3 separate regions of the Homo sapiens genome follow, and regions 1 and 3 are each linked to region 2. Evidence: fine-mapped expression QTL. A gene starts in region 2. Each other region holds a variant in brackets. All regions are shown on one strand. Distances are from middle to middle. Region 1 overlaps FAM149A (family with sequence similarity 149 member A). Region 2 holds the start of FAM149A (family with sequence similarity 149 member A). Region 3 overlaps FAM149A (family with sequence similarity 149 member A).

Evidence for each region. PIP is the estimated chance that this variant, and not a neighbour inherited with it, causes the effect.
Region 1: its variant is fine-mapped to the expression of FAM149A in skeletal muscle (GTEx, PIP 0.98).
Region 3: its variant is fine-mapped to the expression of FAM149A in adrenal gland (GTEx, PIP above 0.99).

Annotation. Positions count from the first base shown.
Region 1 is chr4:186,148,550-186,156,729 of GRCh38, reverse strand. It overlaps FAM149A (family with sequence similarity 149 member A), which reads right to left. Exons shown (of 14, transcript NM_001395294.1): 2 at 7,447-7,557; 3 at 7,026-7,164; 4 at 4,685-4,827; 5 at 2,960-3,085; 6 at 2,092-2,262; 7 at 540-730. Among named protein-coding and RNA genes, the nearest start is that of FLJ38576, 39 kb to the left of the region's middle. RefSeq lists a silencer at 6,597-6,792 and an enhancer at 6,811-8,010. The variant T/C (reference allele first, on the strand shown) is at 4,997.
Region 2 is chr4:186,101,255-186,109,434 of GRCh38, reverse strand. FAM149A (family with sequence similarity 149 member A) reads right to left here and starts at 4,731. Exons shown (of 14, transcript NM_001395294.1): 1 at 3,793-4,731. The coding sequence starts at 4,358. It overlaps LOC124900171 (a long non-coding RNA gene), which reads right to left and starts at 1,741. Exons shown (of 2, transcript XR_007058421.1): 1 at 1,700-1,741. RefSeq lists a silencer at 4,752-4,811.
Region 3 is chr4:186,138,639-186,146,818 of GRCh38, reverse strand. All of the region lies in intron 1 of FAM149A (family with sequence similarity 149 member A), which reads right to left. Among named protein-coding and RNA genes, the nearest start is that of FAM149A, 38 kb to the right of the region's middle. RefSeq lists enhancers at 2,066-2,566, 2,567-3,067. The variant C/TCC (reference allele first, on the strand shown) is at 3,421.

The sequences.
Region 1 (8,180 bases), 47 kb before region 2:
GTCTCCCAAAGTTCTGAGTCACCATGCCTGCCCTGCATTCTTTTTTTTTGAGATGGAGTTTTACTCTTGTTGCCTAGGCTGGAGTGCAGTGGTGTGATCTCTGCTCACTGCAATCTCAATCTCCACCTCCTGGGTTCAAGCAATTCTCCTGCCTCAGCCTCCCGAGTAGCTGGGATTACAGGCACATACCACCACGCCCGGCTAATTTTTGTATTTTTAGTAGAGGTAGGCTTTCATCATGTTGGCCAGGCTGGTCTTGAACTCCTGACCTCAGGTGATCTACCTGCCTCGGCCTCCCAAAGTGCTGGGATTACAGGCGTGAGCCACCGCACCCAGCCAGCCCTGCATTATTTTTTATAACACAAAAAACAATAGCGTCCTTTTTGAAGGGACTAAAGAGCACTCATGAGTAAAGTCAGAACACCCACTTGTCTTCTCACTGGTCACGTTCTAGGTCTGGCCAAGCTGGGGAGCAGGAGCCCAGGGCCGAAGAACAGGGACTTTTTCTTTTCATTAAGCTAAATTCTGCATGTAAGTACCTGTGAGTGTAGTTTCCCAGTGTTTTCTAATCAGCTCTTCCAAAAGTTCTACCATATTTGTCCAGACGTGATCAAACACTTCTGCTGCCACGGCATCTTTGACACAGTCACGCGGGGAAACAGGAGGAAGTCCGAGTTTGCGCCATTTCCTACCGGGCTGAGCTGGTTTTTGTTCAAGACATTCATCATCACTAAGAATAAAAACCCACTCCAATTACTAAAAGATCAATGCTTAGAGTTAAAATAATTCTATCTACACACATTCACGTATGTACATGTATACATATATTAATAAACATTCTTTGTTAAACAGCATCGTTCTTTTTTAACATATATAATTTTTTTCCATTACACATGAATAAAAACAAGAAACCAACTCCTGGTTTCATTGATCTTTCTTTTTTTTTCTAGTCTCTTCATTTATTTCGGCTCTGAGCTTTGTTATTTCCTTCCTTCTACTAAGTTTGGGCTTAGTTTGTTCTTTTTCTCATTCCTTCAAGTATAAAGTTAGGTTGTTTATTTCAGATATGTCTTTTTTCTCAATGTAGGCATTTATTGCCATAGGCTTCCCTTTTAGAGCTGCTTCTACTGTACCCCATAAGTTTGGTTTTAATATGTTGTGTTTCCATTTTAATTTGTCTCATTATATTTTTTGATTTCCCTTTAGGTTTCTTCTTTGACCTACTGCCTGGTTGTTGAGGAGCAGGTTGTTTAGTTTACACATATTTGTGAGTTTTCTAGTTTTCTTCCTGTTATTGACTTTCAGTTTTGTACCACTGAGATCAGAAAAGATGCTTGATTTCAGTCTTCTCAAATGTGTTAAGACTTGTTTTATCAGTGTTACTTTTTAATGTGCCAATTTTCAATCACGGGGCAAAGTTTTATCATGTAATAGTTGTAGTTTTTGATTAAGAACAAAATACAAGGCTGGGCACAGTGGCTCACGCCTGTAATCCCAGCACTTTGGGAGGCCGAGGCAGAAGGATCACGAGGTCAGGAGATCGACACCATCCTGGCTAACACGGTGAAACCCCGTCTCTACTAAAAAAAAATTCAAAAAATTATCCGGGCGTGGTGGTGGGCGCCTGCAGTTCCAGCTACTCGGGAGGCTGAGGGAGGAGAATGGCGTGAACCCGGGAGGCGGAGTTTGCAGTCAGCCGAGCTCGCACGGCTGCACTCTAGCCTGGGCGACAGAGCGAGACTCCGTCTCAAAAAAAAAAAAAGAACAAAATACGAATTTAGTACAGAGGCAGGAACTCCCCTTAGGCCCTTTTGGGCAGCCAGGGCTGGGGAACCTGGAGCCCCCAGGACCAGGGCTGCGAGGAGCCTTGTCTGCTTTTACAAGGGCACTGAACACCCTCTTCGCTGCTCCCGCACGTGCACCGCTGGCTAGGAATCCAAAAGCTCTGGGGAGTACATTACTCTCAAAAGAACAGAAATCTTTTGGGTGAGTAAAAAATACACAAAACACTTAATGAGCATACGATAACAATAAATGTCAAATAAATTAATATTATTTTATGAGGTCAATGTCAAATAAGATTCTATTTACTCCTCTTTTCTGTCAAAAGCGAAATACTCCTCAATCTTTCCATCCACATGGTAAACCTCTTCTTCCAGGGATGAACGTGCCGTTAGGTCAGCAACCCCTGTGTCATCAGGGCCTGGCAGGGCAGAGGCTGAGAGTGCTGCTGGGACTATTTGAGAGCCAGAAATGCACAACCTATGGGAAAAAAACAGATTCTACATGGGAGTTTATAGAACACCAAGAACGCAATGCTTAAACGATCATGGCGGATCTTTCAATTATCTGTAAAGTACAGAATCCCCCCCTCCCAAAACGGTTGAATATTACATTGGACAAAACTCACGTCCTTAAAAACACTTTAATACAGGCATCATTAAACATTTTAAGGGCTTCTTAAAAGCCTAAATTATTCTATGAGTTTGTACCCTCTTTGGTTGCAGTGAAAGGACTGCATTGTGTCACGGCACACCAAATATGTGTGAATGGCATAGAGTCATCAAAATCTGCTAGTGAACAGAAACGACAGGACAGAGCTTCATTTCTCCTGCTGCCACCGCCTGGAGGCTTATAATCCATCACAGTGAGGCGGTTTCCATCCTGCACCCAGTCCACCTTTCACAGCGCCTTTGGAACAAACATGGAAGGTAACTACCATGTGTGTGCATGTGTGTTCCATATATATATTACACATCTCTCTATATACACACATATACACCTATCATCAATTCAGAATCAAAAGCTTCTTATAAAAATTGTTCTCTGTACCTGCCCTTCATCAGAATCTAAATTTCCAAAATGGGTGGAGCCAAGGCTTATAGATGAGATAAACATGAAAAAGTATAACTAAAATACAGCTAACAATACTTTTTGAGAGTCACTTATCTGAACATACTCTCTGATGTTGCTGCTGTGTCCGCAGGCACTGAGCGGGGGTCTGTGGACTGCGGAGGCAGGAGTGCTGCCCTGGAAATGCTGGACGCCTTTGTCAGTGGGCAGGATCAGCTGTCTTCCTAATACTCTGCGAGGTCAAAGAGAAGCTACTGACATTTTTGATCAGACAAAGGGAAAATGTTTGGAGATTTTAAAAGTAGGAGACAATGATTTTGAAGGCATGTGTATGATAAGATGTGTATGGGAACGTGGGAAGCATCACGCATCACAGAAGTGTGACTTTGAGAGTTTAGGCCAGACTGTTCTTCCACTGACTCAGTCTCAGGCAAGGTTCTCAGGCTAATTTCATTTGTTTGTCTTTCATTTGCAAAACAGGATAATAATGGTTACCTTGCAGGGCTGATGAATGGCTTAGAGATCATATATGACAGACTCAGGTGTCTAAGGCAACACTGGGCACAAAGAAGCCCTCCATACATATTAACTAATACACAGTTAAACACAAACATAACAAGAATACAAATATATAAATATGCACACTTGGCTTATGTACCTGACAATCTTTTCCCACCTTCCCTCCATTTCTATCAATGATGTAAGACAGCAGTGACAAGAATAAGTGTGAGCTCCCGAATTTCTGGTGAGTGATCATCCCCAGAAAAGTGAGTATCCACAACTAGTATCTAGTGGACATATCATACTCTTTAGGGCAGGTGGCTTATTAAGGGTTGAAAAGAAAAAAAAAAACAACCCTAGTTGGTCAAGATTTCTGTAAAAGTTACCTAGTGAATGTAACCAGGAAATCCAGCCACATTTACATGAGTGTTCTGATTCATTCTCCCCAGACAGAATCCACAGGAACTCAGGTAACTTTGATAAACTGTCCCCCAGTACGTTGGCTGAGTGACTGAAAGATAAGCTTGCCTTTGGCCGGGCGCGGTGGCTCATGCCTGTAATCCCAGCACTTTGGGAGGCTGAGGCGGGCGGATCACGAGTTCAGGAGATCAAGACCATCCTGGCTAACACGGTGAAACCCCGTCTCTACTAAAAATAAAAAAAATTAGCCGGGCGTGGTGGCAGGTGCCTGTAGTCCCAGCTACTCGGGAGGCTGAGGCAGGAGGATGGCGTGAACCAAGGAGGCTGAGATTGCAGTGAGCTGAGATCGCGCCACTGCACTCCAGCCTGGGCGACAGAGCAAGACTCCATCTCAAAAAAAAAAAAAAAAAAAAAAAGCAAAAAGAAAAGAAAAGCTTGCCTTCATACCCAATCCATATTCTCCATCTTTGATATGAAAAGTAACACATGCTCCTCCCTACATAAGGAATGGGTGAGATGGGAAGACCCATCTATCCAGCCGTTCAGCAAATCATCTCTGCCCACCCTCGCTGTGTTCTGTGATGAAGACAGACATGTGCTGCTCACACACAGTGAATGTGAAGGTAAGAGGTGGCCTCCACCATTCTTGCATTCGTATATGTGTCATGCCCTTCTCAGGATGGCCTGAATTTGCTTCTCACAAATTAAAAGGCGCTTGAGTACTGGAATGTCTCAGTATTTCCTCAGACGCCGTAAGAGGAAAGTGATCTCTCAGTGAAGGACTGCGCTCTGCATCCATATTCTGACTGGGCAGGCACTTTCACACCAAATGTACTGAATGTATCGAGGCAGGTCAGGGGTGGGTGCTTGGAAAACCCACCCCAGAGAACTTCCACCACCAAGGTCCCACCTCAAATGGAGGGATCTTCTTGTCCACTCCCCGCATTCGGCCAGCAGACTCTGGGTCTGAGGGTTCACTTTCCCTTCAAATAACATTTCCTCCACCTCCCAGAGTAACCGCTGCACTGACTGTGAACTGGCTTCGTCAAATTCCTAAACAGAAATGCACACTTGGTTACAACACTGCAAGTTACAGAACTGCGGGCTTCTGGATCAACGCTACTTATACATTTACTGTCACCCACTATGTAGGAGGGTGCATCACTTGGTAAAAAGATGGTGGCTTTGCAGTCAGACACACCTGTGCTCTAGCTGTTACCTT[T/C]CTGAGAAATGCCATCTCATTCTGAGCCTCGGATTCTTTTACTGTTAAATAGAGAAAACTTCTGCCACGGAAGTTATGAGACTCAAGAATTTGCATAGATAGAGGTATAGATGGACGTGTTCATACTGCCACAGACATCAGCGTAGACACACAGACACGTCCACATCTGTATGTCTGCAAACACAGGCAGCTCCTCACAGAGCTGTGCCTGACACACCTAAGCACACCTGCAAAATACAAGATTTTTTTTTCTTCTGGTGATACCACAGAAAAGAAAATTACTTTTGTAGAAAAGGCCATTAATCTCCTTAAATCAATGAACTGGAAAAAAAAATCCTTAGTTATCCTAAGAAGTGTGGTTATTAGGGTGAGGCCTGAGTATTAATGGAAGTTATACGAATTTCCCTGGTAATTCCATTAAACGTTGTACTAAAAGAATCCTAGAATTTGGACAGAGTAAAGCAGTGGTGCTCAGCCTTCTACCAAGGAAGGCGGGCTTGAGGGATGGTGGTGAGTGGGCGTAAGGGAGAGGAAGGAGGCAGCTGCCCCTAAGTAAGGGAGCTGCGTGCGTGAAAGGTCCTCCTAGCAGTGCTGAGCTGAGTCCCTTTCAGACCCCCTCGGTGCACCTGCCCTGCCGGCTCCCCTGAGAATCACAGCTGCACAGCTGCGGACAGAAGCGGATTCCCATGTGCAGTGGGAGTGGGGAACCACTTTTAAAGAAAGCAAAGAGGCTGGGCGCAGTGGCTCATGCCATGGGAGGCCCAGGCAGGCGGATCACAACGTCAGGAGTTCGAAACCAGCCTGGCCAACATGGTGAAACACCGTCTCTACTAAAAATACAAAAATTAACTGGGCATGGCGGTGCACACTTGTAATCCCAGCTACTCGGGAGGCTGAGACAGGAGTATTGCTTGAACCTGGTAGGCGGAGGTTGCAGTGAGCCGACATGGCACCACTGCACCTCAGCTTGAGTGACAGAGCAAGACTCTGTCTTAAAAAAAAAAAAGAGAGAAAAGGCCGGACGCGGTGGCTCACGCCTGTAATCCCAGCACTTTGGGAGGCCGAGACGGGCGGATCACGAGGTCAGGAGATCGAGACCATCCTGGCTAACACGGTGAAACCCCGTCTCTATTAAAAATACAAAAAATTAGCCGGGCGTGGTGGTGGGCGCCTGTGGTCCCAGCTACTCGGGAGGCTGAGGCAGGAGAATGGCGTGAACCCGGGAGGCGGAGCTTGCAGTGAGCCGAGATCGCGCCCCTGCACTCCAGCCTGGGCGACAGAGCGAGACTCCGTCTCAAAAAAAAAAAAAAAAAAAAAAAAGAGACAGAGAGAGAGAGAAAGCAAGCAAGCAAAAAACAACAACAACAACAACAAAACACCCAGCATAAACGAGGTAAAACAGAACACCCAAGGTGCTGCAGCCAGGTGGGCCTTAAAAAGGAGGGCTGTGTCCTGGGATCCACGGAGACCCTTGGAGGGAGGGGGAGGGAGGAGACTGGAGCCAGTGAGCTCCTGAGCAAGCTGGAGCAGTGGAGGCAGAGCTCGCCCAGCCAGAATCCCAGGCTCACACAGACAAAAGCAGTTCAGAGGCAACAGCGCCCCCAGCGGTAGGGGGTGAAGGTGAAATATCCGACTGGGAATACTGGCGGGGAGTTCTCTAATCACAGTGGCTGCCACAGCTTTTACTTTTCCAGCATTTCTTTCTTATTCAAGTCCTGAATTTCCGGCCATGGATACCATCCAAGAAGTCACAAGGAGCACACACCCGGAGAGCCGGCTGCAGGGTGGAAACAAGAAAACTGCGGGCAGCTAAGACGGGGCCAGAAGGTCACGAGGGAGTTCTGTTTTCCTCCACGGTTCGTGATCTATTATTTTCACATGTAACATGTACATGCTTTTACATGTATGTACATGTATGTATGCAATAGGTCATGCTTTTATAATTGGTAAAAATAATTTTGAATATAAGGAAGCAACTCTTCACTATAAACTGTAATTACAAGATTATCCAAAATATTCTGAGACATACGTCATCTCTCCAGGAATAAACGGAGCCCCTCTCCGTGGATGAGCCGGTGGTAGAGCTCTGTGTGGCCGACCCAGACCAAGAGGTGTGGGCTCCCGTGGGTGTATGGCTTCCGCTGGAGGAAAAGGATGACAAGGATTTGCTGCAGGAATGAACATGAGCAAAGAAATCACATTTGCTGGAAGGGCTTGGATGGCTAAGTGGCTTCACTTTTCTGAGCCTGCTTCCTCTTTCTTTCATTAAATATATTTATTAATTTCACAGTATACTAATTTTGAAATATTTTTACAGTGTGATGTTTACACTAGGTTAAAAATAAAACTGCATCTTACTTTTAGAAATTCATGGCCAGTCACTAACTTCCTTCCCACATTTGTTACGGGCATTTTGTGATTTTGTAATCTGAAGCAAGGTGAATTCTTACCAGGTATATTTATCAATGGCTTTCTGCACATTTCTTGTAAAATGCGTAGGTAAAGAATCTTTGCTCCTCACAGTAAAACCGTGCCTTCTACGTCCTTCTGACAGTCCTCTTCTGGAAATAAAATAAAACATGACGAGTCTCCCTAATGTAATAATATAGTTTTATTCATTAAGACTTTTAAAATTTCTCTTTTATACAAAGTTGCTCCTCTCGTTCTGCCACATCCCTCCAAACCCACCTGTGCATGAGCGCACACACACACACACACACACACACACACACACCCCATCCTGATGAAACTGAGACTTAGGATGTCATCATTTTTCTTTTTCTTAAAATCAAGGTTGCCATTAACCTATATGTACCTTTATGTGAACTGAAGACAACATCAACTTTTTGTGACTCAGCCAGAGAAGGAAAAGTTGCCCCAAACAGTTCACAGTATTTCAGGGATTTCAGGTCCCAGTTGTCCCTTGACCAGGGACAAGGGACTTACTTACAAAACCCAACCACTCCTCCAGTAAAAAAATCATTAATCCCATATTAATTAAGAAACATCAAATTCTTTAGACTCAGAAGCCACACAGACACCTAACTTGCTTTAATCTAGCATTGCTGTTTGTGGGTATACTGAGTTTTCAAGAGTTAGAAGATATTAAAATTTAATGAAGAACTAAAACAGAAGAAATATCTAGATGTTAAATAAACTATTAAGCCTAACTGGTGTAGCACAG
Region 2 (8,180 bases):
TCGAGATAAGTCCCTCTAGTCACTTTACTGCCAGCCATGCTGACAGGCCCTTCAAGCAGCCACTGCAATGTTTCCACAGTAATGTGATTTTAACAATGGAACTCAATCACTCAAAAAAAAAAAGAGTGAATATATGCTTGCTAATAACTATGACTTATACAAGCTATAAATACTTCCTGACTAGAAGTTTACACTCTACCAACATTCATACACAGCAATTATCTATCTATCCACCTTACGTATTGCTAGGAATTCTTACATTTGCAGAACAAATAAGAGAATAAGACCGGCCGGGCGCGGTGGCTCAAGCCTGTAATCCCAGCACTTCGGGAGGCCGAGGCGGGCAAATTACAAGGTCAGGAGATCGAGACCATCCTGGCTAACATGGTGAAACCCCTTCTCTACTAAAAATACAAAAAATTAGCCGGGCGTGGTGGCAGGCACCTGCAGTCCCAGCTACTCGGGAGGCTGAGGCAGGAGAATGGCGTGAACCCAGGAGGCGGAGCTTGCAGTGAGCCGAGATCGCGCCACTGCACTCCAGCCTGGGCGACAGAGCAAGACTCCGTCTCAAAAAAAAAAAAAAACCAGAGATTGAGAATAAGACCTTTACAAGGTGTATTGTGTGGTTCAAACCAGAAGTATGAAAAGAGGTAATGAAGAGGGATGAGTGAGACTGAAAAACACTGAGGCATAATATATACATGAAATGGACAGGGAAGCCAAGGTGAAGATCAAAGGTGTTGGATCACGTATCCAGGGATGCAGGAAAGTGAGGTGAAGACAGAGAGATCAGTATCCTCTGCCTCTGGCTCAGATGTGCAGTCAGTACGCCCTGTGGAGCAAAAGGGGCAGCCTCTGTTCCATGGGCCTTTCACTTACGGAATTCTTGGGTCAGAGATTAAAAACCCCTGCTGCTATTCAGCATCTTTGCTTGGAAAAAAGCCTCTAAATTGCAGGAGAGTTTGCATATTTTCCTACTCAAGTTAATTTCACTACTTTTAGTTTTTTGTTTTTTTTTTTTAAAGCCAAGTACAGAATCAGGCAAATGTAAAATGTATGCGTTATTGTCAAAAAAGTACAAACTGCTAATAGGGTTTTCCTTTAGAACTCAGGGCCACAGCTTTAAAATTAGATCCGCATTTCTTGCAGACAGGTTTACGGTTTCCTTTATATGTATTCACATTCTCATCACTCTTTAAACTTTTTCTCTGACATTACCCATTTCTCCCTTTCCAAGTTTCCAGGCTTTTGAAATTTAAATTCCTGATTTTAATATTAACCACACAGGCTAACAGCAGCAGCTATCTGCCAAGTGACAGATGAGATGGTAGGAGCAAATTTAAATTCATTGTCTTATGTTTGTTTATTCGGTGTTATAAATCACTACCACAGAAATCCAGGAGGGAAAAAGAATCCTTCAAGGTGCAAAGTCTGCAGTATTGAAAGAAAAGCCGTCTTAATACTTTCTTCCTTCCCCTTTGTCTCTTATGTTTTAGTGATTGAAAAAGGAGTGGGGTATGATGAGAGGAAGGGAATGTGAGTAGTCGTGGATCTGAAAGGAAAAATGGTATGCTCAGAGGGCCAGTCTGCTTCCTGCCTGTGTGTGCCTCTACCTGCTGCTGCAGACAGTAGGAACACACAAACTCAGGAGGATTCTGCAAAGCACCTAGCTGTGTATATTACTTCTCATGGCACTTACCTAAAATTCAATTTCATGGCCAGATGCAGTGGCTCATGCCTGTAATCCCAGCAATGCCCAGGTGGGAAGATTGCTTGAGGCCAGGAGTTCAAGACCAGCCTGGGCAACATAGGGAGACCCCGTCTCCACAGAAACATTTTTAAAATTGGCCAGGCATAGTAGCTCACACCTGTAGTCCCAGCTACTCGAGAGTCTGAGACGGGAGAATCAGATCGCTTGAGCCTGGGAGGTTGAGGCTGCAATGAACAGTGATCATACCACTGCACTCCAACCTGGGTGACAGAAGGAGACCTCATCTCAAAAAGTAATAATAATTTAAAAATTCAATTTCTTCACTGTCCATAAAATTGAATGCATTTGTTAATTCAGAATAATCTCTTATGTAAATAATGCCAAATGCAGTGTTATTCAAAAAGTATCTATTCCAAATATTTGCACAATATAAACATGAGCTAATATGTTCAAGAATTGAAACTAACACCAGTTTCACTGGCCATGCTGCATATTTCAGTGCCTATTTGTTAAAAGCACTAAGACTAGAGTTTAAGGTCAGTGTGTAGATCTGTTTGCTCATAAAACATTAATTGCATAAATGTTAAGGACCAGTTGCCAATAACAAAGATCTAATTCCTCAGGCATATGTATTCCAGTGAGTTTTCCAAAAGCAATTAACTGATAGGGAAAACTATCAGTTGATAAACATATGTCATAATATAGTATTTTTTAATGAGTGGGAACAACTTTTTGCTTAACTGCTTATTTTCTTTTTTGTTGTTGTTTTTTTGAGACGGAGTCTCTCTCTCTGTCGCCCAGGTTGGAGCGCAATGGTGCGATCTTGGCTCACTGCAAGCTCCGCCTCCCGGGTTCACGCCATCATCCTCTTGCCTCAGCCTTCCGAGTAGCTGGGACTACAGGCACGTACCACCACGCCCGGCTAATTTTTTGTATTTTTAGTAGAGACGGGGTTTCATCGTGTTAGCCAGGATGGTCTCGATCTCCTGACCTCATGATCCGCCCGCCTCGGCCTCCCAAAGTGCTGGGATTACAGGCGTGAGCCACCGTGCCCGGCCGCTTGTTTTCATATTGACATGAATATCATTCAATTTTGTGAAACTGTAATTATTTAAATTGTGAGTGAGTCAGGATCAGTATGAATGCAAAAATTACTCAGGATTTTTTGGAGGGAGTAGGGAATGGCCTCACTAGATTACAATGCAGAAACCTCAGTCTGTGAATTGGCTCATCTGTCTTTGACCATTTCACTATTTCTTTGCAGCATTCAGGATGAAAATTTACCCACTCAAGAATAGCTAACGATATGCTCCACTCTAAAAATTAAAATTCATCCTAGTTCTAAAACACATTTTAAAAGAGCAATGTTTTTATCACGACTCTTGGAAGTGAAAGGGGTGTTGTGTGGGTGTGTGTGTGTTGAGGGAATCGGCCTCCGATTCCCAGTGAAAATGTTCCCATGAAGTCAACGTTTCTGCAGTGACTCAGGGCACTGTGGAAAGCTCTCAGGAGCTCTAGGGTAATAATCAGACGTGTCCTGGCCATTACAACTCCATTTGTGTCAGATGATGTCATGCATATGTAAATTAACTAGATGTCACACAAAGGAGACCCATCCCACTTAGGATAAGACTAGGGACTGGTCCTTAGACATTAGGAAAGCACCAGGTCTCACCACTTCTTAAAACACTTGCTGCAGACGTGTGTATTCGGTTTCCCTGCACACCTGCTATATTCTGAGACAAAGAAAGGGACTTCAAAAAGTCCTTAAGAAAACCAAACAAACACTCTAAGTAGCAATGCTTCTGGTAGAAGAGAAACAAAATTCTGTCCCTTCCTTCAAGGCCCCTTAGGATTCACTCTGAGAAAGCTGGACAAAGCATGTCACAGCTTATGTCTGAAAGCCCGCAAAGCCAAGGAGTAAAAACCCAGGAAACGTGCAAGGAGGGTGCCCAGGGGGTTATGAAAGTTACTACAAATATTTCATTTCCTGAAGTGCACCTGCGAAGGTGAGTGCGGCAGGCGGAGGGGTCGGGGGTCCCGGCAAAAGGTACACGCGCCCGGACCACGCTGCTACTCACGCTTCGCCATCCCCGGAGTCGCCGTCCGAGGCCCCCTCCTCGCCGATGTCAGGCAGCGTAAGGAACAGGGTTCTGGGGCCAGCCCCGGGGGCCACGCAGGCGCCGAGCTCTCGCTCTCCGGGGCCAGGCTGGAGCGGGTTCCTGGGGAGCGCGGCCCAGACCCCGCCGGGGCCCGAGGGCGGCCGCGCTGGGACCACCAGGCGAGCAGGGGAGCAGCCCCCGCCGGAGGGAGTGGGGGGCTGGGGCGGGGCTTTACCCGCTCTAGGGCTACTGGGCCAAGAGAGCAGGGTCCCCACTGCTCCCGCGGCGCGGCTGGCGGCGGAGCCCCGGGAGTAGGGGGAGGAGAGCAGCGGGGCGGGCGACCGCCGCGAGGCGGAGGGGGAGTCCGGAGCCAGGGCGCGGAGGAGGGTCGGGGCGGTACCCAACGGGGTGCCCGCCCTGGAGCCCCCCGACCCTGCAGCGGCAGCACCTCCCGAGGGTCTGGAGGAGGGGCCTGCGGGGGGCGCCGTCGAGGTCTCGAAGAGTTTGGCCAAGAGAGACCCAAGGTCCAGCACAGCAGCCTTCATGCCTCGACAGTGGACACGCCGTCCTCGCCGCCGCCCGAGAGTTCAGACCGCGGAGATCCGGCCGAGGCGGCCCGGGCCGGGGCGAGGAGCCTGAGGTCCCCGCACCCGGAGCCCCGGAGGCCCCTGGCTCCCTCTCCTCCCCGAGGACGCTCAGCTCCGCGCCGCTGGGGTCGCCCTTCCCCGGCCCGGGTCCGTCCGCCGAGCGCCCCGGCTGCGGAGAGCAGCCCCGCCTCGTCCCAGCGCCGTGAGACCCCCGAGGGCCGAAGGGCCAGGAGCCCCGGGAAGCGCGGCCGCCGCCCGCCCCAGACGCCCGCCGCCCGCCGCCCGCCGCCCGCGGTTGCTACGTTCAACACACCCGGCCGCGCTCCAGGCTAATTGGGCCCCAGGTGCGGCTCGGGCTGTGCCCGCGGGGGACGTCCCACTCCCCGCCTGGTTCCGCCTTAAAGGAACACGCCCCCATTTCCCCTGCGCCCCGAGCCTCGCAGATCCCATCCGCCGAGCTCAGGGCCCAGGGCTGGGAAAGAGAATCCTGGCTCCAGAAGGTTCTGGAACTTACCCAGCCTGACAAGCTTGCACGTGCTGGGGTCAGGCCACCTCTCTGACGATAGGGAAGGTGGGTAGAAAGATGTATTTGGGCGAACGAGCTTGAAACAGCAGCATCCACTCCCCCACCCCAGGGTCCTACTCAAACCCTGTTACTAAGGGTGGGGTGGGAGCAACCGCGAGGTGCGCCACCCACTAACCTGCAAACAAGACCGGCTCTGAGAGCTGAAGTAGAAAGACCTACGCACACCTGTTTAAACACCTGTCGGAGTGAACCAAGAGACTGTGTAATTCAAATGTTTGAGAACTCAAATTATAATCGGAACGACTACAAATTCAAAGACAGATATGGAAGGCAACGTTTTCTATTCAGTGGAATAAATTGTATTTTGCTTAATCTGAAAAATATGTGTGAAAGGTAGAGCGTATAGGTGCGAGCATCTAAAGGGGTGTGGGGTCAGTGTTGAACAGAGTTAAAAAATAAGATACTGCAGCCAGGCTCGGTGGCTCATACCTGTAATCCCAGCACCGGGATTGGGAGGTGGGAGGATGGCTTGAGCCCAGGAGTTCCAGGCCAGCCTGGGCAACAACATAGGGAGACCCCATCTCTACAAATATTTAAAAAAAAAAAAAATGCCGGGCCTGGTGGCGCATGCCTGTAGTCCCAGGTACTCGGGAGGCTGAGGTGATCGCTTGGGCCTGGAGTGAGCCGTGATCGCACCACTGCATTCCAGCCTGGGCAGTAGAGTGAGACCCTGTGTCAAAAAAATAGTAATGAGATATTGATGGAGTTTGTCCATTAATATTCAGGAGAGGATCTCAGGAGATACATTTCCTGATGTGGGGTAGGGAAAAGAGATGAATTAAGTCTGGCAGTGAATAAACTGACATTCATGCTTATATACTTGAATCTTTTGTAAGTTATCAAACTGGAGTCTGAGCCACGGTAAACTTCCAGGTAATGCTAAGTTTTGCGTTATTTGGAGGCAGTTAACAAGTCTTCTGTCATGATCCCTTTTCTACATCTAACTGCCACCAACATGTACTGGGCACTTGTCTGCTTCAAGATTGCATTAAGCACAGACATGCAAAGAAAGAGCGGTTCTCTTCCCAGAGCATGGAATAATCTGCTTCACGTCATATGCTGAGTGTCCCGTGAGTGCCCTGGAAGACAAGCACAGGTGATGGCAGCCATCGTGGTCAACATTCGCTTGGGGACAGCAGAGCATTTGTGTGCCTAAGGGAAGTAAGAGACATGGGTGACTAGGGTGAGATTTTAAAGGCCCTTGGATGTTCGGAGAGGCGAGAGCACGCAGTCGTCAGCGTGTGAAGCACCAGCACACAGCGAAGAATCAAAATGAGAGAAAAAGGGAATTAAGAACAGACACCTCTGAGAGCAGCAATGGTAACAAGAGGGAGAGGGTTGGGGGCAAACCAGGGAAGCAGTGCCAACTCCGTCACAACGCAGAGACACCAGGAACAGGCTGCTGTTGAACCATGAACTTTTCTCGTGCTCCCTTGTTCCCCTTCTGCAGCACTCACCAGGTAGCCTCAGAAGTCTGGACGTTCCCTCCGAACACTGGACTGTTTTCATGTAGCACTCATTCAGGACTGCAAAGCAGTTTCCCACAGATTTTGTTCATCTTACAAGGATCTTATTCTGATTCATGGAGTAATTAAATCCTTAATATATCAGGTCACTTTCAATGCAAATAGAAGTTATTTCTAGAGTATGTGCTTTCAGTGAGTAAGGGGCTAGTCGCTCCATTGAATCTGAACATATGGAACTTGAAATAACAGCAAGGGAGGGCCATTGTGGAGCAAAGTTCGAGTCAGCTCACCTAGATCCTTGGGGGTAGCACTTGTTTGCTGCCAGAACTCAGGATTCCTGATATTTCAGACTCAGAAATCTGATGGGCCCAGCACCTTCACAGCTGACCAGTGTCTCTGTGTGGAGCCCCACTAATCTGACTCACAAAGCACTGATGCGGCCGGGTGCGGTGGCTCACGCCTGTAATCCCAGCACTTTGGGAGGCCGAGCGGGCGGAGGAGGTCAGGAGATCGAGACTATCCTGGCTAACACGGTGAAACCCTGTCTCTACTAAAAATACAAAAAATTAGCCGGGTGTGGTGGTGGGCGCCTGTAGTCCCAGCTACTCGGGAGGCTGAGGCAGGAGAATGGCGTGAACCTGGGAGGTGGAGCTTGCAGTGAGCCAAGATCTCGCCACTGCACTCCAGCCTGGGTGACAATGCGAGACTCCGTCTCAAAAAAAAAAAAAAAAAAAAAGCACTGATGCAGTGTTCCATCCTCTGCTCTTTCCCCATAAGAGGAATCCCTTTAGGACCAAATTAATTCCAATGGTTGTTAGGTGAGTGTGGAATCAAAGCAAAGGGAAGGAATCATATGGTTCACATACAGGGGGCATTAACCATTAGAGTCCAGCACCCTTCTCCTTCAGGAGCAACTGTTCCTGAACAGTGGTGCATTCATGCCGCTGTCTTGGGCTCTCTGGTTCTAGATCTTTCCATGTTTCCCTCAATAACCACTTCTCTTCTATGGACAAGCACTTTGGGAGGCTGAGGCAGGCAGATCACTTGAAGTCGGGAGGTCAAGACCCGCCTGACCAACATGGAGAAACCCCATCTCTACTACAAATACAAAAATTAGCTGGGTGTGGTGCCGGGTCCCTGTAATCCCAGCTACTTGGGAGGCTGAGGCAGGGGAATCGCTTGGACCCAGGAAGCGGATGTTGCGGTGAGTCAAGATCGTGCCATTGCACTCCAGCCTGGGCAAGAAGAGCGAAACTCCGTCTCAAATAATAATAATAATAATAATAATAATAATAATAATAATAATAATAAATAAAGCTAGAGAACAGCTGCATACCCTTCCAGATCCTGGCCTTGAAAGCATTCTGTCTCTAAGGTGTGTCTGCATGTGTCCCAGCTGTGGGCACATTTGAGTTGTGTGCCCCCAGAAGATGTGTTGAAGTCCCACCCCCAGTTCTTGTGAATGTGATCTTATTTGGAAATAGGATCTTCACAGATGTAATCAAGTTAAGCTGAGGTCAGTAGGATGGGTCCTTGTCCAGTACGATGCGTATACTCTTAAGAAGAGGGAGATGTGGGCACAGACACACAGGGGGAGCACCACAGGATGACAGAGGCAGAGGCTGGAGTGAAGCAGCTGCAAGCCGAAGGGTGCTCCAGGCTGATGGCCACTACCAGACGCTAAGAAGAGGCAGGGATGACTCCTCCCCTACAGGGCCCCACAAACAC
Region 3 (8,180 bases), 37 kb before region 2:
ATAGGATTACATCGTGACCTGACATGAAAATATTCCCCAGATTCAAGACACTATTGGATAACGTTTTACTCGTTAAAAAGTCACAGCTCTTCTTTGGGCAGCTGATATTCCCCCAAATGGTTTTCACCGCCAAACGGAGCATCTGCTCTGCTCAAGACGGTCTATCCTGCTTCTAGCTCCTCCTCCTGCTTTTGTGCAACTTTGAAGCCAAATTCAAAATGGGACGCATGCGAGTTTGTTTCAATGAATAATTTATTCCTCTAGGAAATTCACTCTTTTTCAGGGGAAAGGGTGGAAGCTCTTTTCAAATTAAGGAGAAAATTATTTACAAAACGGAGGAACTCATCTCTCTTCACATCACACCACATCCTTTCCAGGACCAGGCTTCCCACTGTCTTGGACGCAGAGCTGAGCCCAGGAGGTCTTGGGATGCAGGGCAGGGGGAAATGGGAAGTTGGGTAACAGTCACACCAATTATTACGAATTAGGTGCCTTAAAACTCCCCTACTCCATGCCATTTCTCCCTCTTTTTTCCTCTCTGACCTTCCCCTCTGTATCTCCTTTTAAGCAATTTCTTGAGCTTCAGAGTTCAGTGTAATAACATACAAACTTGACCACACAATTCACAAAAAAACGAGGTGAACAGGAATTTAAGTCCGTAACTCAATGATTGCCCAAGAGCACAAAGAAGATAGGGACAGAGTTTCTTCGAGGAACCAGGCCACTGACCTGCCTGTCTCTCCAGTGGCACAAGTTACTAACATCATGAATTAACAGCAGAGCCTACAAAATCCCTTTCTTGTCTTTTTCTTTTTTTTTTTCTCTTTCACATCTTGTTTTGGTTCTTTGGTTTCTCTGTTCTCTAACCAAGGATTGGTTACTGGTCCCTCATGCATAATGTTGAACCTCTTTAATCCCCTATAAACTATGGACTAGTTCTGTATCCTACACAGTCTAAGAAAGTGTACACAACTTACAGGATGCATCCCACAGGTATTTTAAAACTTGAATATGGTGGCATGTCCATGAAGCTTCTAAACATAGACATGCAAGTTCTATACTAGTTCCTGTCCATACTGTTTAAATAGAGCAAGGCTGTTGATTTGGGGACAGGTCTTCGTAGGGTGGACTGAAGTGCAGTCACTAAACTAGACTGCACTCATTTGTTGGCGCATGGAGGTTAAGGGTGAGTTCCAATCTCCATGACTCCATTCCAGCTGTCAGGAAAATCATCATCCAGAGTTACTGTTTTAGGTTGCTTCTTGACAGCCCACAAACCTCTGCCACACTGCTTTGTAGAAATTCTAATGTCAGTGACAGCAGCTTTCAAAATTTTCTATTCCTAGTTGACAGGACTGTCTGACATAAGCACTGTACTCTGAACGGGTTAAAATGCAGGCTGGTTTTCTGGATGGGGGGACACACAGGGGCACTCCAGGGTGGCCATGGGAAGCCGCTCCTCAGCACGGAACACTCACACCGCCCTGACCCAACACCAGCAAGTCCCAGGAGCGACCGCAGTGACGAAGGAGTCCCTTTGGCGGCGAACGCTTCCCCGCGTGAGCCATGCCCGGGGCCGGCCTGACGCTTCCCGAGTGCCTGCAGGGAAGCCCGGGCCAGACGCAGCCGGCCCGCGGGCGGAGAACACCGCGCACATCGCCTGCAGAGCGGCCAGAAGGCGAGCCCTGCTGCCGGATGAGACTCACCCGATTACGATCAGCCCCGGGCCTGTGCTCGCAGCCCCCGCGCCAGGCTCCGCGCTAGGCTCGGGCACCGTCAGGCAGAGGCACCGCGCGCGGGCCCCACGCAGACAGCCGGTCACGCGCCCCCGCGGCCCCGGGGCTGGGGCTCCCCACCCGCCCGCGCCCGCGCCCGCGCCCGCGCCCGCGCCCGCCGCGCGGCTGGCCCAGCTCAGGCGGCCCGGGCGCGCCCGGGGTCCGCGGGGCTCGCACGCCCCTTCCCTCTCCAGATCCTCCGCCCCGCCCGCGCCGGCGCCGCCTCCCCTCCTCCTCCCTGCGCTGCGCCCTCGCCCGCCAGCTAATCCCGGCTGCGCCCGCCCATCCCCGCTCCGGGCCCCGGCCCCGGCCCCGGCCCCGCGCCGACCTCCGGGAAAGCGCGCCTTCCCCGCTCCCTGCCGGGCCGGGTTTCCAACCCAGCGGCCACTCCTCCGCGCACGGCCCGGCCTCCCTACTCCTTCCCGGGTCTCTGGGGCCGGGGGCTGTGCATACTGGTGCTGGCTGCCCTTCTCTCTTCCAAATCGGATTTTAATTCACCAGAAGAAGGCAGAGAACCACAGGACCATCTCGCCTATCCCCGCCCCATCAAAGGGTGCGCACACCAGGCTGGGGTGGGGAGTGGACGAATGAGGTTTAAAAAATGAAGCCCCGGATCTGGTCAATGCGAGAACCATTACTCCATCAACAGGAACGCTAGATCTAAGCATGCATACTAAAGACGTGGACCCTTCCACGCCCGTCCTGCCCTACCGGCTCACACAAGCCGGTGCATCTCCTGCACACCCCGAGCATGCCTGCCGCTTGCGTTACCATGTGCTCGTTTCAGTTTTGGAGGCCCAGGATTATACCAGGAGCAGAGCAGCTGGACGCTCTCCTGTGAGCTGGTGAAACTGCCAAGCCGTCATTTTCACATGCTAAGGGAAGAAGGGGTGAGGTCGCGGAGGTGAACTACATTTTTGAGTCTCAGAGGGTGGGCACTGCACGAGGCATGCCTTTCCCACGACAGGGATTTTAGTAATGACAGTTAGTGCACTGGGTGCCGGTACAACACTCATCCCCGTCCTGCCGTAGCCAGTCTCTTTTGAGAGCTGAGGCCATCTAAGTTTCAACAGGTACAATTTCTCCTGCCAAGTATCCCGTATTTACAGAGGTAAACCATGTATTTCCGAGTTTTTACTAAAAAGCCCAGTTTATTTCTGATGCACCACCCTAGCACGGTGACAAGAAATCACTACCAATAACAAAAACAGTAGTCCAGCCAGGGTGGCTCACGCCTGTAATCCCAGCACTTTGGAAGGCTGAGGTGGGCGGATCACTTGAGATCAGGAGTTCAAGACCAGCCTGGCCAACATGGTGAAACCCCAGTCTCTACTAAAAATACAAAAATTAGCTGGGTGTGGTGGTGCGTGCCTGTAATTCCAGCTACTCAGGAGGCTGAGGCATGAGAATCACTTCAACCTGGGAGGCGGAGATCGCCCCACCCACTCCAGGCTGGGCGACAGAGGGAGACTCTGTCTCAAAAAAACAAACACAAACAAAACAGTAATCCATTGTTGAACTAAGAACACTGGAATCCTCCCCACTTTTATAAAAGTGGTAAGTGGTTATAAATTATAAAATTAATGAGATTTTAAATCCTGATACATGTATATGTGTATATGTGTGATGTGTGTGTATGTGTATA[C/TCC]ATATCTATCAGGAAAACTATGGTATCTTAAGCCCACACAGACTTGCTGATATTATTTATATTGCCAGGGGTGGGAGGATGGGCATGCCAGGGAAACAAAAGAAAGGAGTCTGGTGTGATGGCTCCCACCTGTAACCGCAGTGTTTTGAGAGGCCAAGATGGGAGGATCACTAGAGCCCAGGAGTTCAAGACCAGCCTGGGCAAGACAGCAAGACTCTTGTCTCAAAAAAAAAAAAAAAAAAAAAAAAAGTAAAAATCGAACACAAAGTCATTTAAGATCCAAACATATGCTAGCTGCTTTTACTTTTATATATATTATTTTACATATATTCTTACATATATTTAACACCCATAGTAGGTAGACACTATTATTACAATTTTGTTGATAAAAATACTGATGTCAGAGACCTTAAGTAACATGTTCGAGGTCACACAGCTAGGATGTATATGTGTGAATGTGTCCCAGATATCTATTACCCCATAACAAACCACCCCAAATGTAGATTAAATCAACAGTCATGTTGTTATGCTCATAATCCACAGAACTCAGGAATTGCGGCAGGTTGAGTGTTTCTTCTGCTCCCCGTGGGGTTGCTCAGTGGCATACAGGTGGAGGGTGGTCTGGTGTGGAGGCTCTAAGAAGGCTTCACTCATGTGTCTACACCATGCAGTCGGGGGTGGCTGGAAGTCTGGGCTCAGTTGAGCCTTCTCTCATGCAGCTTCAACACTTCTCTGAGTGGTCCCTCCAGTGAAGTCGTTGGAATTTCTACGTGGCAGCTTAGGGCTCCAAGAAAGCGAGGCAGAAGCCGTCAGCTCTATTCAAGGTGGCAACTGGCAGTGTCACCTCCACTGTACTCCATAATCAAAGCAGTCCCAGAATGAAAGAGATGGAAAATAGACCCCAGCTCTCAATGGGAAGAACCTACAGCCGTCTTTAATCCGCCATAACCGTCCTCTGGCCACAGGTCATTTACACATGCACGATACACTCAGCTCTTTCAAGATGCTCAGAAGTCTCATCATCTAAAGCATGTCCGCGTACAGATGAGGCTTCTGCTTGGGTATTTCCTTTACATCTGAAGACCTGCGAACTAGAGAGACAAGGCAACAGCCTTCTCCACACCCAACCGACAATGGTGAGACAGAGCCAGGACATCCCCAGTGGGCACCTGTCCAACAAGAGAGGTGGCGGAGCCAGGCAGCAGCCACTGCGGGTTCCAGCAGGCTCCTGCTGCCTTGCCTTGAGGAGGACTCACTTCTGCTTCCTGCCTTCTCCCCAGCCCTTAGCTCTGTCCTCTGGGCTGTTGCTTCTACCGAGACTTCCTCAGGGAAAAGAAATGGCCTAGGTTTGCAACTAAGTAGCCTCTCAGCCTGCTTTCCTCCAGGGAAGGCTGGGGAAGGGGGTCCAAAAGTCTGTGCCTCTTTTAGTTCAAGCCAGTGGCGCTTCCATCACTCTGCCAATACCTTGTGGGTTTCTTTGAATTTTATCAGAGTTCACCCCATCCATTAGTTACAAACCACACTGACCTGAGATGGGCCCTTGGTCCACCTTTGAGACTGCCGGGGGCCAATTCTCTTATGATTTTTTAAAGCCCTATTATCTTGGGGATCTATGAGACACCCCTAAATCTGACGTCTTGTTAAGCCAAACCTTTGATTTCACCTTTACCCCTGCCTAGGATTTGATCTTTGCACAGAGGCCATTTTTCAGTTTTGCCCAGAGAGACTGTGATGGTCAAAGTTTCACAAACCCAGCAAGTCTTGACTTCTATATTTCTTATGACTTCTGTTCAAAACCTGAACAGTTCCTTAATTCATTTGTCTCTTCTCTCAAATTTCAAAACCTAAAGCTATGCTGCTTGCTTAAAGATTAAAGTGATAAAATCTTCACGTTGGATTGGTTTAGACCACCACTGCCCAGTAGAAATATAATGTAAATACATACAATTTTAAATTTTCTAGTATCCACATTTATAAAGTAAAAGAAACAGGTACAATTAATTTTAATGATATATTTTAATCTAATATAAATTATCATTTTAACATGTAATCTGTATAAAAATTGGTAATTAGATATTTTTAATTTTTTTGTACTAAGTTTTGAAATCCAGTGTGTATTTTACACCAATAACATATTTCATGCATCCAACAAAGGTCTAATATCCAGTATCTATAAGGAACTTAAAAATACATTTGCAAGAAAAAAACAACCCATAAACAAGTGGGCAGAGGACATGAACAGACACTTTTCAAAAGAAGACATACATGTGGCCAACAATCACATAAAACAAAGTTCAACATCACTTACCATTAGAGAAATGCAAATCAAAGCCACAATGAGATACCATCTCACATCAGTCAGAATGGCTATTCTTAAAAATACCAGATGCTGGCAAGTTGGATCAGAACTACTTCACTGGCTCTCCTGGATCTCCAACTTGGCCATTCACCTTGAAGGCCTTGTGACTTGTCAGCCTCCATAATCAATGAGCTAAATCCTTGTAATAAATCTCTTTATACAGATATATACAAATATAGATGTAGACATGTATCTCCTATTGCTTCTGTTTCTCTGGAGAACCTAATACAATGTTACCTGTACTTAGTCCATACGATTTTCCATCTTTCATTGATTATTTAAACCCTAATTGAGAATTGAAAAGTACATAACTATTTCTATCTTATTGTTTAAGTGTTTTACATTTTAATGGCATGGGGCCCTGGGATCAGTAATTAGAGTCATTAAATGGGAGACCTCAATTCCTAAAATAATAGGATCTCCCTTAGCCTAGTTTGGCGAATTCATTAGGATAAAATAAAATGGTATAGGCTGGGCACAGTGGCTCAGCACCTTGGGACGCCAAGTCAGGAGGATCTCTTGAGCTCAGGAGTTCAGAACAAGCCTGGGCAACATAATGAGACGTTGTCTCTACAAAAAAAAAAAAAAAAAAAAAAAAGCTAGGTGTGTTCACATGGATCTGTAGTCACAGCTAATTGGGAGACTGAAGTGGGAGGATCACTTAGAGCCCCGGAGATGGAGGCTGCAGTACTCCAGCCTGGGTGACGAAGCAAGACACTGTCTCAAAAAATAAAAATAAAAAGTGGTATATGTGATTATGTGATCACCCTCTGAAAATTAATTAGTAATATAAGATATAAAGTTATTCCAAAAATTATAAGCAACTCCTCTAAAAATTGACCTGATTTCACGTGCTGGCTCTGTCTTGCCCTAGCCATGCAATCCTGAGCTGATAACTTAATGCTGTGAGCAGAAATTAGCTAAAACAAGGCTAATATTACTGTCTTCCTTGTAGAGTTGTGTGAATTAGAGACAAATTTTGGAAACTGCATATAGATACATAATAAATTGTAAATTATTCCTTTTTTCAGCATTTAAAGCATTGAGAGTGGTTTTTTTTGTTAGGTGGAGTATTAAACCAGTTCATTTTAATATTATGCAATATAATACACAAAAGTTACATACAGTTTTTTACATTTATCCAGTACGAGCAGTCCTGGCTTTACATGGGTATCATATAAACTGAAACTTGTGCATATCAGAACTGTGGCCTTGCTTTGCAAATACAAACATATACATACAACTATGTCATCTCTCTATACCATAGAGCTGTCTCCAGTAGCAATGAGCACCTCCAGTGCCTAGATCTTAGTTCCTAACACTGTCCTAGTCCATCTGGGCTGCTATGACAAAATACCATAGACTGGGTGACTTATAAACAACAGAAACGTATTAGGTGGATGCAAAAGTAACTGCAGTTTTTGCCATTACCTATCTCCCACAGGTCTGAAGGCTGGGAAGTCCAAGATCAAGGTGGTAGCAGATTCAGTGTCTGGTGCCGGCTCCATGCTTCCTAGATGGTGCCTTCCAGCTGTGTCTTCACATGGCCAAAAGGGTGAAGAAGCCCCCAGGGCCTCCTTCATAAAGGCATGAATCCCACTCACGAGGGCTTTGCAATCATGACCTAATCGCCTCCTAAAGGCCCCACCTTTAGTACCATTTCATTGGAGAGAGATTTCAACCTATGAATTTTGGGGGATACAAACATTCAGACCACACCAAATACTATTCTCCAATAGAGGGACCAGGGCTCCATGGAGGAGTGGCCGATTTGGGGGCTGAGGCAGGGCAATATAAAATGTACCTGGAGCATCTTGTACTGCCAGACTGTAGGAAAGTGCTCAAAAAACAAAAACCAAAACAACAGAAGAATGAGAGCATGTCACAGGAGCCATCCTGAAAGAGCCCCAAATGGCTAAAGCTAGAACAACCTGAGTAACAAAATACATCATGTGCTATCGGATTATAACTAAAGTACAAAATACATTTCTATGAGCCCATATTGATAGAAATAAACAAATAAATAAATAAATGGGGAGAAGAGGCACATTTCCCACAGAAGAACTCTACCCCAGTGGTGTGTGTCTCCCCTTCCAGGAGGCGGGCATCATACCTTCTTCTCCAAGAGTGCAGTATGGAAGCTTGACTCCAAGAGTGCAGTATGGAAGCAGGGGGTGACTTTACAGGGGAGCAGCCTGACAAGCACTCCCGGAGCCAGGTGGTCAAGGCTGGCACCATCCGTGATGTGTCATGTTGACACGCACCCTTGCAATGAGGCAATGAGAAAGGCACTTCCCTTCTGTGGCCTTCCCCCCCAAACCCATAACCCCAGTCTCACCATGATAAAAACACAAGGCGAACCCCAGCGGAGCGGCCTTCTACAAAACACATGACCAGTACT